Linked DNA regions of Homo sapiens: region 1 is linked to region 2. A link means that fine-mapping ties the variant in region 2 to the plasma level of a protein whose gene starts in the linked region. Region 2 holds a variant in brackets. A gene starts in the other region. All regions are shown on their forward strands.

The links. A credible set is the group of variants that fine-mapping cannot tell apart. PIP is the posterior inclusion probability: the model's chance that the variant is causal. The UK Biobank Pharma Proteomics Project read protein levels with antibody pairs (Olink). The fine-mapping took linkage between variants from a reference panel, not from the people measured, so its PIPs are less certain.
Region 1: TIE1 starts here. The variant in region 2 is the best candidate, but not a certain one, in a credible set for the plasma level of the TIE1 protein (UK Biobank, PIP 0.62).

What each region holds. Positions count from the first base shown.
Region 1 is chr1:43,295,426-43,306,533 of GRCh38, forward strand. TIE1 (tyrosine kinase with immunoglobulin like and EGF like domains 1) reads left to right here and starts at 5,557. Exons shown (of 23, transcript NM_005424.5): 1 at 5,557-5,704; 2 at 9,426-9,740; 3 at 9,808-9,918. The coding sequence starts at 5,647. RefSeq lists a silencer at 5,397-5,496 and an enhancer at 5,527-5,616.
Region 2 is chr19:48,747,185-48,753,440 of GRCh38, forward strand. It overlaps FUT1 (fucosyltransferase 1 (H blood group)), which reads right to left and starts at 5,457. Exons shown (of 2, transcript NM_001384359.1): 1 at 5,306-5,457; 2 at 827-4,099. The coding sequence starts at 4,097. The coding sequence ends at 3,000. RefSeq lists enhancers at 1-5, 6-791, 3,814-4,453, 5,659-6,245 and a silencer at 5,494-5,543. The variant C/T (reference allele first, on the strand shown) is at 2,948.

The DNA.
Region 1 (11,108 bases), not on the chromosome of region 2:
GTAAACCCGTAGCAACTGTTAGCCATTATAATTGAGGTTTGTTGGTGTTCTAGCATAAGACTCTGCATTGCTGGGTAAATTCCATTCTGACCAAAGTGGGTAAAAGTTTGTTATGCTTTACTAAGTACACTCTGAGCTTCTAACTGCCTGAACCCTATGTGGGTGTTGATTTCAGTTTCTGACCTCACAGGACTCCTCTGGGCCAAATGGCCTTTGTCAAGCAGTTTCTATAAAAGGGACTTCTTTCAGAGCCTTGTTGAATTAACTGGGGCTTCCTTTAAATAAGGGCTTGTTTTTAGAAGCTTTCTTTTTCCAACAAGGAAAAGAACACAATGGATTCCAAGTAATCTCCAGTCCTCATCACAGCTTGTCACAAACACCTGGCACGTCTTTTCTGACTAGAGTGAAAACACACACACACACACACACACACACACACACACACACACACACACACACTAGCTTCAGGGACACAGCCTCAGCCTGATGCTCCAAAAGCATTTACTGCAAACTTCCTCTCACTACAGAGTTATTTCCTGGAAGAACAACAAAAACTGTTTTTGAATTGACAATGTGGCTTTAGTTGCTGCTGAAGTTAAGTGAAAGTACCAACCATTGTTACTATTAACCTAAACAAAATCTTAAAAGAATTACTTTCTTTTTCTTTTCTTTTTTTTGGACAACAACAAGAACAAGATATTTTTCCTTTCTTTGCTGATCAGTATGAAGAATGATTTATCAGTAAAGTCAATTTCAGGCAAAGGCAGAACTTAGGAATTGGGTTAAAGTGTTGCTTATTTCAACCAAAAGAAAACTTTCTAATTTGTTTGGGCAGCATTTACTTGGTTCTTCGAAAAGCAATTGTGACAAACAGTACAGAGAGTTAAGGCACTTATTGGCATATAAAAAGATGCCAGCATTTGGAGTTGCACATAACAAAGAAATATCTTAAATACTTTTCAAAATATTCTAGGAGCCAAGACACAAGGGCATGCTTCAGGAGAACACAGGAATGTAATTTGGGAGGAAAATTGCAACTACCCCTTCCCTTTAAAATCACTGAGCAAAACAAAGCAGCATTCTACTTCACATACTGACTTTACATAGTTTATATATAATAGTTTGACTTTAAGAAGCAAAGATGGGACTCTCACTGTTTATCTTTTATTTATTCTTTTTTATTTTTTGAGACAAAGTCTCACTCTGTCACCCAGGCTGGAGTGCAATGGCATGATCTCAGCTCACTGCAACCTCTGCCTCCTGGGTTCAAGCAATTCTTGTGCCTCAGCCTCCCAAGTAGCTGGGACTACAGGCGCGTGCTACCACATCTGGTTAATCTTTTTGTATTTTTAGTAGACATGGGGTTTCACTATGTTGGCCAGGGTGGTCTTGAACTCCTGGCCTCAGGCGATCTGCCTGCCTCGACCTCCCAAAGTGCTGGGATTACAGGCATGAGCCACTGTGCCGGGCCTCTCACTATTTTGAAAAATAATTGCATGGTCACCCATGTAACCCACCCCAGTCTGGCAAGTTTAATTGGGAGAGGTCTCCGTTACTTAGAAGAGTACCAATTTGACACTTTAATTCAGATAGCCCTGACTTCATTTTTGGGGAGCAACTTAGAGAGGTTCATTCTTTCCCCCCTGACTCATCCTCTGTTGATCCAGTCCCGAATTTCACCAGCTTTTTTATGCATAATTTGCATAACAATTTCACCCAAATGGATCTCAACTGAGCATCATTTCTGCAAGAAGACTATGGAGTTTGTCTATAGAGAAAATTAAATCAAATTCATAGACATTTTTAAGAGTCTGTCAAATGTTTCCACATGTATTTACATGTGGTCTAAAACCCTAAGGGCATTGTAAGAAGCCACACAAAAGACCCAAATGAATGTTCTAAGGGGCATAAAGCAGTTTGTTGTCTGAGCCACCTGTTAAGGGAAATGAGTGGAACTTGGAGAGTCAGGCTTTCCTGTCCCTCTTGATCATGACGGTCACTTGGAGAACAGTGAGTCCAACCCGCTGGGGTGGCCACAGGGGATGGACCTTTACTAACATAAAAGAAAAATTTTTTAAAAATTCTTTGAATGGTTTCCAAATGAGCACTCCCTCCAAAGTGGAACTTAATACCACAACAGATATTCACCCTGTGCAAATACAGGTTGAGCACCCCAATCCGAAAATGTGAAATCTGAAATGCTCCCAAATTTGAAACTTTTTGAACACTTTGTGATGCCACAGGTGAAAAATCCACACCTGACCTCATGTGATGGGTCATATATATCATATGAAATATTGTTTAAAATTACCTTCAGGCTATGTGTATAAGGTATGCATGAAACATAAATGAATTCCATATTTAGACCTGGGTCTTATCCCCAAGATATTTCATTATGTATATGAAAATATCCCAAAATTCAGAAAACCTGAAATCTGAACACTTCTTGTCCCTAGCATTTTGGATAAGGGATACTCAACCTGTACATGCAGTATGAATATATATTCCTATTTTTTTCTTTTTTAGGCAAACGCTAACATACAATATACACTTCTGTACCTTCTTTTTATCACTTACTAATTAGTATGTCTTAGAGAGCTTTTAAAAACCAGTATATAGACTTGGAGAGTTTCTTCAACTAATTTCACAGCTGTTATATTTTACTGTATAGCTACATCAAAATTTATTTAACCATTTCCCCATTGATTGACACAGGAATTGGTCCTAATCTTCTGCCATTACATATAATGCTACAATGAATAACCATGACATTTTGTACTGTGGGAGTATATCTGCAGGATAAATTCCCAAGAATGCAATTGTGAGTCAAGGATACGTGTGTTCATGAATTTGACAGATATTCCCAAGTTGCCCTCCATCAGAATTACATCAACATGCCTATATAGAGCATGCCTATTTCCCCACAACCTTGCCAAGACAGTGTGTTATAAAACTCCCAGACTTCTGCCAAACTGATAGTGAGTATGGTAGTGAGGAAGAGTTTTTTTATTTTTATTTTTATTTTTGAGAGGGAGTCTAGCTCTGTCACCCAGGCTGGAGTGCAGTGGCGCGATCTCGGCTCCACTGCAACTTCCACCTCCCGGGTTCAGGCGATTCTCTTACCTCAGCCTTCTGAGTAGCTGGGATTACAGGCACGTGCCACCACGCCCGGCTAATTTTTGTATTTTTGGTAGAGACGGGGTTTCACCACATTGGTCAGGCTGGTCTCGAACTCCTGGCCTCAAGTGATATGCCCGCCTCGGCCTCCCAAAGTGCTGGGATTACGGGTGTGAGCCACTGAGCTTGGCTGTTAAAAAATAAATTACCTTGAGTTGACCTGGCGCCTTGAGTTTAACTCTATCATTATCAATTCAGTTTGTTTTGGGTTTGGAGGTTAACCCTCCAATGTGTAGAACTTCATATTTGCATTATTTTTGGCCTATAACTTTCGAGTGACTGAGACTTCAAGATGTGCATTATGGCTTAAGTCGTCTTATACATCTGCAACAGCAGATGTATACACAACCCACTCAAAATTTGTGTGTGCAGTAATATTTCATTTGGGACATATTGTTTGTAAACTGATGCTATTTAAATTACTTGCAGCATAATCTCAACACATGTAAAAATACTTTTACACTTGTAGGATATTGTTTTATAATACAAATTCTTGTGTACAAACTCCATTAACATTTTATTTATGTACAGATCATTATTACCAGTTTTTGTTTCCCAGTTGAGAGTGGGGAGGGCAGATGGGCTCAGAATCTTTGCATGTGCCAGCATCCTGCAGTCTCAAACTTTTCCATTCAAAGCAAATACCTGTGCCAATATCTGTGTCACTTCCAACAAGAATGAATGCTGCCTAAGTGCTCTCCACACATTTGCAAAATGACATCAGGCCCCCCAGGTCTTCCAAGAACCAAAGGAAAAGTTCCACAAAAGTGAATCCTGCCATACAAACAGTCCCAGCACTTTCCAGCTCCTTTTTCATTCCAGATTCAAAGGTCTGGCACCAGGATGAGCTGAAGTGTAAGGCATCCACCACTCTCCCCCTGCTCCTACTCCCATCCCACCCAAAGCCTTGTCTAGAGAAAGCTCCTCCCAGCCTCAGGCCCAGGAATGGGAATCTCTGTGGGTCACACATCAGTAGGGAGGTCTTTCCCGATCCTTTTCTATGCTACTCCAGGAGTCAAAGCGTCTCCTGGGACTTTTCAGGGCGCTTCAGAAGAGCCCTGGGCCTAAACCAGCTCAACCAAGCTGCAGGGACCCAGCCTCCTGAGAAAAGTGAATGTGAGCCCGGTGCATTCAGAGGAGAATGAAGCCTTCACCCAGAACACACTCTGGGAAGATGTCCCAGGCCCAGGGGGAGGGTTTGTACTACCAGACCTAAGTCACCTAAACTGACACCAAGTCTCATCCATCCCAACCATTCCATTCCGGGTCAGAGGGGTCATCGATTTAACCAGCAAGGCTGCCCATCCAACGGTTGCTCCCTCTGCTCCCTGGAAGGGCCTCCTCGTGGGCGTTCTGTACCTACAGGTCTTGTTCCGTTCTGGGAACTGCCAGTGGTGGCAAGAGGTGGAGCAACGGGTGCCAGGGCAGGGAGAGGTGAGTCTGGGAGGGAAGCAGAGGCAAGATCCATGGGGCTTTAGAGACTTTGCCAAAGCAGTGCGACTGCTCCCAGGTTGTTGTCAGCCGTCAAGAGTGAGTGCACCTCCCTGGGCAGACTTCTGCTGCCCCAGTGCCCAGGAATAGGCAGGGGTTTGCCGCAAAATGAATGACACCTGGCAGACAATAAGCTGAAGCTTTCATTAGCAGCTTAAGCTGAGGACTATCTATGCAACCGATACTCCCTGTGTGCTCCCCGGGACTGCTTAATGTGAGCCCTTGTGGAGCGATTGGCACCAAGAAAGCAAGGACTAAGTCAGAAGTTCAAGTCCCAGCCTTGCCACAGCCTCAGGGTGCCCTCGAGCACAGCAAGCCTCAGTTTTCCCATCTGTACAATGAGAGAGGTACACAAGGTAGACTCGAAGGCTCTTTGTTGCCAGGGCCCTGTGTTCCTTTGAGTGTATGTGCTTCTCAGGCCCACAGAGGTCCTTTGTGTTTCGTATGTGAACTGCTCTCTAGGAAACCCATGTAACTGTCTGTGTCCTGGGGCACATACATGAGGACTCATGTGGGCCGTATTGTGTGTTTGTGCCGGGGGGAGGGGAGACCCCAGAACAATGTCCCCCACCCCACCCCCCTCCTCAATAGGCGGAAGCCACTGGCTTCCTCCCTTTCCTGCCTCCTGCCTCCTTTGTGCCAGCAAGACTGAGTACTGGAGAGAGACAGGGGATGGGAAAAATCAGTCCAGCTGTCCCCAGGTCTGCCCTTACCATAACCTTCCCCCCACCTCAAGTGACTCCTCCCAGGCCACACCCATCCCCAGCCTTGTGGGGGCCAGATTGGGGGGCCTAGAGGCTCAAAGGCAGAATGAGTCCTCCCACCCCCTACCCTGCCACCCCTCCCACCCAAGCCACCTCATTTCCTCTTCCTCCCCAGCACCGACCCACACTGACCAACACAGGCTGAGCAGTCAGGCCCACAGCATCTGACCCCAGGCCCAGCTCGTCCTGGCTGGCCTGGGTCGGCCTCTGGAGTATGGTCTGGCGGGTGCCCCCTTTCTTGCTCCCCATCCTCTTCTTGGCTTCTCATGTGGGTAAGTCTCCCCTGAGTCCCTCACCCCATTTCTAGGCCCCGAGGCCCTGATTTCTACCCAAGAAACCCTATTTTATCATAGAGACAGAAAGTAGGATGATGGTTGCCATGGGCTGCAGGGAGGAAGAAATGGGGAGTTTTGTTTAAAAGGTACAGCGTTTTTACAAGATTTTTACTTGGTTTTACAAGATTAAAAGAGTTATAAACATGGGGCCGGGTGCGGTGGTTCATACCTGTAATCCCAGCACTTTGGATGGCTGAGATGGGAGGATCAATTGAGGCCAGGAGTTCAAGACCAGACTGGTCAACATAGTGAGACCCCGTCTCCATTGTGTTTAGACTTTCGTCTTTTTCAAAAAAAAAAAAAAAGGATGGATGGTGGTGATGGTGGGACAACACTAGGAATGTATTTAATCACATTGGGTTATATGCTGCTTACAAATGGTTAAGATGGCAAAATTTGCCGGGTGTGGTGGCTCACGCCTGTAATCCCGGCACTTTGGGAGGCCGAGCGGGTGGATCACAGGGTCAGGAGATCGAGACCAGCCTGGCAAACATGGTGAAACCCCATCTCTACTAAAAATACAAAAATTAGCCGGGCGTGGTGGCAGGAGCCTGTAATCCCAGCTACTTGGGAGGCTGAGGCAAGAGAATCGCTTGAATCTGGGAGGCAGAGGTTGCAGTGAGCTGAGATCGCGCCACTGCACTCCAGCCTGGGCGACAGAGCAAGACTCATCTAAAAAGAAAAAAAGATGGTAAAATTTATTTTATATGCATTTCACCACAACAAAAAATTTTGGAAAACAAGCCCTATCATCACTGCCATCACTTTGATCCACTAGAAAGTGAGATCAAGGCCAGGAAAACACAGGCAAGTGCTAGAAATCACTGCAACCTGGGATCAGGGGAGGAGTGAGGAGTAGCCGCTGACTGTGTTGGATCTGAGGATCTGTGGAGGGCCATTTTCAGGGGGTGTTCATAGGGTAATTGTGTTGGATTCACTCAGTTGTTCACTGGACAAACATTTATTGAGCACCAACAATATTCCAGGAGTTGTGCTAAGTGCTGGGCCATTAGTTGAGAGGCTGGCAACACCTAGTCTGTACAATGAGATTAAATGATGCCAGCCTCCTATGGTTGTTATGGGGTTTAAATGAGAAAATGATGCAGAGCAGTTGGCACAGTGCACTGTGCTTGGTAAGGATTTCTGAGTAGGTGGCAGCTGATTCCTTCAGTCTGCTGGTCAGCCGATTAGAACACAGAGGCTGCCTTTGAGTGGTTCATGGTCTAGTGCAGAACACAGGACAGGGGAAGAGGGCTAAACAGGGACAGACACAGGAGCTCTAGAGGAGCACTGAGGAGGAGTTCAGCTTACACTGCCTCAGGTAGGAGACAAAAAGGGAATCAAGGAAGATTTCACTAAGAGGGGTGGTCTTCATTCCAGGCAGCCAGAACATAAAAAATGCAAGTCTCAGAGGCATGGAGGTGCATGGGAGAGAAGGTGCCTGTTAGGAACACAACAGGAGGGATAGCGTGGGAGCATCACGGGGCTTAGGAGCACGAACATTATCCTGAGGGCAATAGGGAGCCATGGGAGGTCACAGGCAAGAAAGTCACAAGGTCAGGTTTGGTCTTAGATCACCGTGGAGGATGAGTTGCAGAAGGAGGGGCTGTGGCTGTTGGGATGGTCTAGGTGAGTAAGGATGAGGGCTGAACAAAGGCAGGCTGGGGGGGTGGGGATGAAGTCAAGAAGCGTTCAGGAAACAATGTGCAGAATTCTATGACTGATGAGGCAGGCAGCACAGTGCTCAGAGATGTGGACTTTAGAATCAGACAACCTGGCCCTGCCACTCACTAATTGTATGACCTTGGGCAAGTTACTTAACTTCTCTGAGCCTCCCTTTCCTGGCTATAAAACAGGGATAATAACATCCACCTCCCAGGATAGCTGGGATGGTAAAATGAAACAATATCAGTAAAGTGCCTGGTGCATAACTGGCAGCCAATAAACATTCATTATTATGACAATGGGAGTAGAGATGACTCCATAGTTTGTGTCTCAAGTGGCGGGTGCTGTCCAGTGAGTCAGGGAGCACTGGAGAGGAGCAGATTTGGGAAAAGCTGATGGAAATGCAGGTCCAAGCTGAAAGACCGTTCCCGAGTTACTGACTCAGAGGTGATGGTTAAAACTGGGGGAGTGGGCGAGCTTGCTCAAAGAAGCCAGTAGAATAATTACCATGATCCTCCTCTGTAACTGGAAAGAATATCCACTTCACTGGTTGTGAGGATCCAGTGGAAAATGGGGGTTGGTATGTGGTGGGCGGTCAGTAAATGCCAGCTTCGTTTGCTCATGGTAGCCTTTCAAACACTGATAAGCTAGGTGGCATTTAAACTAATGAACTGCTTGACAGTCAGCTACAAGAGACAGAGAAGGAAGGGCTTGGCTGGTGGAGGGGTTCTGGGTCCTGGAGCTAAGGCAGGCTCGCAGGCTCTCCACCGTCCAGACTGGACTCTGACTCCACCTGATCTCTCCTGCCTCAGCCTCACATTTTGTACTCCAGTCACACAAACCTGGAGAGCCCCCTCCACCTGCCACAATATTGCCACTGCAGGCCTCTGTCCAGGCTGTTCCCTCTGTCTAGGATGCCCTCTCCCTGCCCCTGATTTCTCTCCCTCCCCATTGTCCTCACGCCAATGTGCCCTGCTCCAACTGTACCTCCCAGGAAGCATCTCTTCATCTCCCTGAGCTCCCCCAGGCTGGAGCAGGGGTCCCTTCTCTGTGCTCAAAAGCACAGCGCCCTACATTTGGCAGCTGTGTTCATGCCTGTTCCTCCAACTAGGGCGTGAGCTCTTTGGAAGGCAAACAAAGACCAAGACCTACCTCGTGTCTGTGTCTGTCTGGGCTCCAGGCCTTGCCCTGGGGCTGCCCTCCCTGGCTCTGGGCCCAGCCCCAAGCTTAGCTCCATTTCTTTTTGTTTTTCTTTTTCTGGAGAATGGGGTCTTGCTATGTTGCCCTGGCTGATCTCAAACTCCTGTGCTCAAAGGATCCTCCCACCTCTGCCTCCTTAAGTGCTGGGATTCCAGGCGTGAGCCACCGCACCCAGCCCTAGCTCCATTTCTGTGCCACAACCTTCTGGCTGCAAAACTCAGCCTCTCCCACCTCAAATCCCAGCCCACCAGACATTTCTAGATCTCCATAGTGACAGAGAGGGGGACCCATGGGACACTTCTGTTCTGGCTGGCTCTCCTGGCCTGCACTCTCGTGGTGGAGGCAGGGAGAAGTGGCTCACAGCAACCTTTGCAGGGCAGTTTTAGAGACGAGTGGGGAAACAGGACTGATAGAAATAAAGTGAGGAAACGGAGACAGGGAGCATAGATCATTCTTTCCGAAAGCTGGGGCGAAAGGGAAGCCATCTGGCAGGAGAAGGGAGGGGACACGGCCAGAGAAGGATTCGTGGTTTTGTTTTTGTTCTTTTAGAATGAAGAGACTTGAGGGAAAGAGGCCAGTGCGCATGGAAGGGGAAAGGAGGGGGATGGGAATGCCTGATAAAGTGAGGCCTGTGGGGTCTGAAGAACCGGGCAGGGGAAGGAAGAGGGGTGAAGGTTGGAGACCCTCTTCTGAGTGGACGGTGGATCAGTAAGACCAGAGGGCTGGGGCTGGGGGCTCTGGGGCACTAGGGTTGGCTGGGACTACAATAGAGTCACTGGTGTCCTGGCCCCAGGCGCGGCGGTGGACCTGACGCTGCTGGCCAACCTGCGGCTCACGGACCCCCAGCGCTTCTTCCTGACTTGCGTGTCTGGGGAGGCCGGGGCGGGGAGGGGCTCGGACGCCTGGGGCCCGCCCCTGCTGCTGGAGAAGGACGACCGTATCGTGCGCACCCCGCCCGGGCCACCCCTGCGCCTGGCGCGCAACGGTTCGCACCAGGTCACGCTTCGCGGCTTCTCCAAGCCCTCGGACCTCGTGGGCGTCTTCTCCTGCGTGGGCGGTGCTGGGGCGCGGCGCACGCGCGTCATCTACGTGCACAACAGCCCTGGAGGTGAGTTAGGCAGGCGGGGGGATGGCGCGGGGAAAACCAGGCCGCTGACCCACCTTCCACCCCGCAGCCCACCTGCTTCCAGACAAGGTCACACACACTGTGAACAAAGGTGACACCGCTGTACTTTCTGCACGTGTGCACAAGGAGAAGCAGACAGACGTGATCTGGAAGAGCAACGGTAAAGAGGGGCATTTGAACTGGTGGGGAGGGTAGACCCATCGTTCTGAGGCCCCAACACTTTCATGACCCATGGGACCCTCAGCTTTGGCCCCTGACACACCCGACCTCCAGGGCCTCTCCTCTGTAGTGGACCAGGTCCCATGGGATGTGCCTGCACCCATCTTATCTGTAGTTCTGAGCTGCCTTCCTTCTGTACACAGAGGGCCAGGAGCCTGTGGTCAGCTGCCCCTTCCCTCTTAGCCCCAAATGAGCACGATGTTAAACCCTCATCTCTCCCCTGGGAGTTAGCAGGTGCTGTCACATAGCCCACCTGGCAGACCGCATCAGTCCCCCTGAGGAGGAAGAGAACTGGTAACATCATGCCCAACACAGGCAGGGCAGAGTCTAGCCTCTCCCAAAGATCTGTCCAGCCCAGATCCTTGATGCCCAAGACAGCCTCATGCTGAGGCCTGGGTAGACCCGTGGGATCTCAGTCCCAGGCCTGTCCTCCACCCTGACCCTTTGGCCACCCCATAGAAGGAAGCTGTTTTCCTATGTGGCCCCAAGATTCCTGCCTCAGTCCTCAGATTCACAACCCCTTGGCTGACTCTTGCATACCTGGGCTCCTGAGGGAGGAAGACCCTTCCCTTTGGCCAAGGGGGCTGCCTCCTGAGCTCTGGACCCCGTGAATTGACAGGAAATGTGAAGAGGCACAGGCAGACCTGGGTCTCTAGGCTCTCTGTTCAGCCCTGAGCAAAGAGGCAAGAAGCGGGTGGGGCAGCGACTGGAGCACTCTTCTAAGAGGGAGAGGCTCAGGGGAGAGACCCTAGAGTAGATGGCACTTGAATTGTGCTCAGAGGAGAAGTGGGAAGACAAAGAAGGCAGAAAAGGAAGGAAGGGCCTTCCAGGAGGAGGGACTGAGAAGAGCAGTAGGGTCTGAAACACAAGGGTGTTTCTAGAAGAGAAACAATCCATTCAGGAATTCAGGAATGTTAGGAGTCAAGAAGGGTGTGAAGACGAATGGGGCTGGATGGCTTGGCCACGGCCAAGTTGGTGAAAATGATGTCTAAGGAGCTGGATTTTTGTCCTGAGGTCACTGGAGAACCAGGAGAGTTTCAGCAGAGGAGTTAGAGAGGAGTCTGTTGTAAAAAATCACCCTGGCTGCTGGGTGGAGGAGGGACAAGAAAGGGTGACACTGGAGGCAGAGGA
Region 2 (6,256 bases):
TCCTTGGAAACGGCTGTCGAGCCACGAAGTGGACATTTTAGCCCTAAGACTACAACTCCCAAAATGCCCTGGGGCCTCTTTCTCTGTAGCTGACTGACGCTGCCAACCTCATAGCTTTCCGGGAAATGTAGTTCAGTGATAATCCGCTCCCTCCTCCGCCTCTTCTGCCCACGCGGAGGTCCCAGTGGGAGGAGAGGACTGGGGGCCAATACTGACAGTCCAGGAGTGAGCAACTGGGGGCTCAGACGTTAGGGTCCTGGAAGGTCTCTCTCTCCTGTGTGATAGAAACAGGGAACCAGAAAAACAGGGACCACAACTCACACAAGTCCAGCAACAAGGGGCTGTCAGATCTAAGTAGGGACAGTACTCCCAATCACGAGTAATAAAAATCCTCAGGGCCCGGCGCGGTGGCTCACGCTTGTAATTCCAGCGCTTTGGGAGGCCGAGGCGGGCAGATTGTCTGAGGTCAGGAGTTCGAGGCCAGCCTGGCTAACATGGTGAAACCCCGTCTCTACTAAAAATACAAAAATTAGCTGGGCATGGTGGCGAACGTCTGTAGTCCCAGCTACTTGGGAGGCTGAGGCACCAGAATCCGAGAGGTGGGAGTTTGCAGTGGGCCGAGATCACACTACTGCACTCCAGCCTGGGCCACAGAGCAAGACTCGATCTCTGAAAAAAAATAAATTAATTAAAAAAAAATAAAAGTCTTCAGAAGTACCCCACCTTTTCCTCCACTCTCTTACACACACACACACACACACACACACACAAACCCACACACACATACACAGTGGCTCTGGCTCCAAAAAAGCTACAGAGACACGGGTTAGTGCTGTAGACTTTTAATTCATACCTCCTGCTCTCTCACCCGTGGCAGCTGAGTTGGGAACAGTACTGTAACAATTGTAACTGTAACTCCCTGATAAGCCTACAGGCATGGGGTCTGGATGAGTAGACAGGGGATGTGATCAGAGCTGACTATGTTTAAGGTTTCTTCTTTCACCCTCCAAAAAACAGCAAGGGGCTCCTGAGATCTCGACAACCCCGTCCACCTTGGCCAGACCTCGTGCTCCTGCCTGGATCTGAGGCTGGGTCCAGGGTCTGCCTACCTTTAGATCGTTTTATCTCAGACCTGCCCAAAGCCAGATGTAGTGGTTCTGGGAGTTCAGGGACAGACAGTGGTTAGCAATGAGCACGGTACCTGCCAGTTTGTCACAAGCACAGAGGGTGTGTTTATACCTGCACACTTCCAGAAAACAGATCCCAGACCCTCAGCAGCCCACCTGCAGACAAAGACCAACTTCCTTCATTGTGAGAGGCAACCTGAACTCACACCCAATATATGGAGCTCTTGGCAGTTTATGAGCTTTAAAAAAAAGTGTCCCTGGATCCCTGGAAAGTTCTGCTCCAGAAGCTGTACCATTTTGGCAGTGATCCCTCACCCCACGTTCACATTTTAGCCTGTCTGCTCAAAACAAACAAAAAAAAGTCTTTGAGGGGCTGTGGGGCTTGTTGGACAGAGTCCCGCTCTGCTCACCAACTACCCCAGCTTTTCCAGAGACTGTGAACAGAGCAAGACGCTGGCCAACTAGAGATGGTTTGTTTTCCATCTCAATTTTTCCAGCAATGGTGGAACATTCATTAGATGCTACAATTAGGTTGCACATTCATTAGATTCTTCACTTGGCCCGGTGTGCTGGCTCACATCTATAAACCCAGCATTCTGGGAGGCCAAGGTGGGAGGACTGCTTGAGCCCAGGAGTTGAAGAACAGCCTGGGCAATATCACAAGACCTCGTCTCTACAAAAATTAAAAAAAATTATCCGGGCCAGGCATGGTGGCTCACGCCGGTAATCCCAGCACTGTGGGAGGCCGAGGTGGGCAGATCACGAGGTCAGGAGATCGAGACCATCCTGGTTAACACGATGAAACCCCGTCTCTACTAAAAATACAAAAAAAATTAGCCGGGCGTGGTGGCGGGCGCCTGTAGTCCCAGCTACTCAGGAGGCTGAGGCAGAATGGCATGAACCCGGGAGGCAGAGCTTGCAGTGAGCTGAGATCGCGCCACTGCACTCTGGCCTGGGCTACAGAGCAAGACTCCGTCTCAATAAATAAATAAATAAATAAATAATTAAAAAAAAAATATCCGGGCTGGGCACAGTGGCTCATGCCAGTAATCCCAGCACTTTGGGAGGCCAAGACAGGTGGATGACAAGGTCAGGAGATCGAGACCATCCTGGCCAACATGGTGAAACCCTGTCTCTACTAAAAATACAAAAATTAGCCAGGCATAATGGCCTGTGCCTGTAGTCCCATCTACTCAGGAGGCTGAGACAGGAGAATCGCTTGAACACAGGAGGCGGAAGTTGCAGTGAGCCAAGATCACGCCACTGCACTCCAGCCTGGGCAACAGAGCGAGACCCTGTCTCCAAAAAAAAAAAAAAAAAACTAAAAAGATTCTTCACCTTAGTTATCTGGATTTCCAGAACCCCATCCTGTCCATAAGGGCCCTGCAGGGTTCTTCACAGGCATCAAACCTGGTCCTCTCTAGAACAAGTCTCCCTCTAGAATCACTCCAGAAACACAGAAGGGGACTTGGTGAATGCTTGCTCTGGAGCAATCATATGCTCCTTCAGTCTTTGGAGGACCCAGGGGAGAAGTAACCCCTCTTCTAGAGTAGACCAGAGGGAGAGTTCCCCATTCCTGGGGGCAGCCATCTGGAAGTACTGTAGATATGGGCTGGGAAGAGCAGGTGGGCACTGTGGCTTCTAGAACTGCCTGCCAGCCATCAGGAAAAGATGTTTTGCTAGTTCTAGAATATTCAGACAGTTCCAGAAACGTCCCCCTTCTCTCCAACTCTCCCAACTAGAATCACTCTGGATACGGGCACCCATTTGCTTCAGGAACACCACAAGCTTCTCCAGAAGATGCCAGGCCTCTGAAGCCA[C/T]GTACTGCTGGCTCTAGAAAGATCAGGCTACTTCAGAAAGTCTCCCTGGCTCTCAAGGCTTAGCCAATGTCCAGAGTGGAGACAAGTCTGCATTAATGCCCACCCACTCGGGCAGGAAGGCCGCCTCCGGCTTAAAGATCTTCAGGAACTCAGAGTCTGGCAGGGTGAAGTTGGCCAGGTAGACAGTGTCTCCGCCAGCCAGGTAGGCAGCCCAGAAGCCGAAGGTGCCAATGGTCATAATGGTGTGGTTGCACTGTGTGAGCAGGGCAAAGTCTTTCCACGGTGTAGCCTCCTGTCCATCGCCAGCAAACGTCACATCGCCCTGGGAGGTGTCGATGTTTTCTTTACACCACTCCATGCCGTTGCTGGTGACCACGAAAACGGGGGCTTCGTGCCGTGCCCGGAACCAGTCCATGGCCTGCCGGAGGTAGGCGCTGTCGCCCACCACACCCTTCCAGCGCTGAGGCATAACCTGCAGATAGTCCCCACGGCGCACGTGGACGCCGACAAAGGTGCGCGGGCGGTCCCCTGTGCGGCCCAGGCGGAGCTGACCCAGCACACTCTGCGCCTCTTCCCGAAGGTGGTCGTGCAGGGTGAACTCTCTGCGGATCTGTTCCCGGAGATGGTGGAAGAAAGTCCAAGAGCAGGGGAAGCCAGAGAGCTTCAGGAAAGGATCTCTCAAGTCCGCGTACTCCTCCGACATCCAGTCGTGAAGCTGCAGCTCCCGCCACGGCGTGCGGCTGTCCACTTCTGGGGCCAGCACGGGCAGGGTGATGCGGAATACCGGGGCCAGGGCGGCATGCATGGCAGGCAGGATAAAGGCCCGGCGGCCGTTGAGCTGGGCCAGAGCCAGCAGCGTGGCATACTGTCCCATCTGATTACCAAACCGGCCATTGGGGTAGACAGTCCAGGTGCCGGAGAGGGAAGCAGGGTGCTGGGGACAGGAAGAGGAGGCGTTGGGGCCCATCGCAGTACCCGGCAGGCAGAAGATGGCCACTGGGGGTGTCACCAGGCGGCGGTCTGGACACAGGATCGACAGGCCTAGGCCATGTGGAAAGCTGTCTTGATGGATATGGAGGAAGAAGATTACAGAGAGGACACAGACTAGCAGGAAGGCCAGGCAGAGCTGACGATGGCTCCGGAGCCACATGGCTGCAGGGGAGGAAAGGCGAATTAGCAAATGCTCTGAGGCTGAGGAGGGGAGGCTGAGGAGGGATGTGGGGTAAGGGAGGCGCCTGGGGTGCAGCACTCCTTAGTCCCAGGGAAAGAGGAAGTTAAAGGTTTAGACTCCTGGGGCTGAGGTAGGGAGAGCCTGAGTCCTAGGTTTCAGGGATGAGAGCCTTGGAATTTCGGGGCATGGGGACTGGAAGACAAGTGGTTTTCAAGATAGCCATGGTTTGGCTGGGCACTGTGGCTCACACCTGTAATCCCAGCATATTGGGAGGCTGAGATGGGAGGATCCCTTGAGCCCAGGAGTTCAAGATCAGCCTGGGCAACAGAGCACTCTTACAAAAAAATTTTAAAATTAGCTTGGCATGGGCCAGGCGCGGTGGCTCACACCTGTAACCCCAGCACTTTGGGAGGCCAAGGTGGGTGGATCACCTGAGGTTGGGAGTTCGAGACCAGCCTGACCAACGTGGAGAAACCCTGTCTCTACTTAAAATACAAAATTAGCCGGGCATGGTGGCGCATGCCTGTAATCCCAGCCACTCGGGAGGCTGAGGCAGGAGAATCGCCTGAACCCGGGGGGCGGGAGTTGCGGTGAGCTGAGATCATGCCATTACACTCCAGCCTGGGCAACAAGAGTGAAACTCCGTCTCCAAAAAAAAATAAATAAAATTAGCTTGGCATGGTGGCACATGTCTGTGGTCTCAGCTACACCGGATGCTAAGGCGGGAGGATCCCCGGAGCTCACAATGAGCCGCGATAGCACCGCTGACTGCACTCCAGCTTGCGCGACAGAGAGGGACCCTGTCTTAAAAAAAAAAAAAAAAAAAAAAAAAGAAAGTGGTCCAGGTTCCTACACCTTTCCTGAAGGAATCTCGAGTCTCCCCTCCTGTAAGTTCCGCTGATACTGGACTCTTCCACCAGCCTGTTTCTCAGGAGTACCTGTCTGTGAGGCGCAAAATCCACCACAGAGGTGGTGATGGGAAACGATAGTTCAAGTAAAACAAGAGAGGCTGGAGGGTCAGGAGCGGAAGGAGCATCTTGGTTCCTGGAGGAGTAATGGCTGGGGAGGTGGCGGAGATTCCTAGGGCCTTAGGAAGACCTGGAGAAGAGGTTGGGGGTGCACCTCCTGGTTCTGAAGGAGTTGTTCCTGGGTCCCAGGAACAACTGAGTGGGGCAGTCCCCACTTACCCGAGCTGCTTGCAGGTGGCAGATCCACAGTCCGCTTTTCGTGGCCGGAGCGCACCCTCCGCAAAGGCAGGCCACATCCGGCCGCCCCTGGAACGCCAGGCGTCCGGCTATCCGGCCCGGCAGCCCTCCCCTCCGCGCAGCCTGTCCGGACTGGCAGCGAGGGCTTGGGGAGGAGAGGAAGGAGAGGGCGCGGCCGGGAGTCTCGCAGCGTCCGCCCTCCCGGGCCGGGCGGATGGCTGGAAGGTGGAGCCCCGCCCGTCACTTGGCGCCGAGCCCCAGCGCCAGGGGCTAAGGCGATGGCCCCTGGGCCCACCGCTCCCCAGATCGGGGATGCAGGGGACCGCGCCCTGCCCCTCCGCCCCGTCATTGACCTGCGCGAAGGCTTCACCCAGGGCAGGCTACCTGGCTTCTGAGCAGCCGCAGCATCATTGCGTGGACCAGGAGACGGAGCGCCCAGTTGCAATGCTGGAGCCGGGAGGTCCAATCCGCCGCCCTCTCTCTTCCGGTGCCAGGGCTTAGAGTCGGCCCCCGACACCTGGGTGCTTCGAGCCTGGCCACGCCCCAGCGGCTGGGCAGGGCCCCCGCACCTGGTCCCGGCGAGTGGAGCGATCGTCCGCCCTCTGCCGCGTCCTCCTGGGGGATGGAGAACCTGTTTGCCAGGCTGCCGCCGGAGCGCGCGAGGGCCTCCAGCCTGCAGGTGCTCCCGCGCCCACCAGGGTCTCCGATCTCCCACACCCCCCGCCTCACCGTCCACACTCAAATTCCAGAATCCCAGCCCCTAGTCACTCCTTTTGGGGAATTCTAGGGTCCCGTGCCAAACTGCTACTTTCCAGACCTGCACTGCACGAAGGCAACCATTCCAAGGCTGGAGACCGGAGTGGAACAGGGTCTGTTTCCCACGCCGTCAGCGGGGGCCGTGGCTGCCGGCGCCAGAGACAAAGGCCTCTGCCC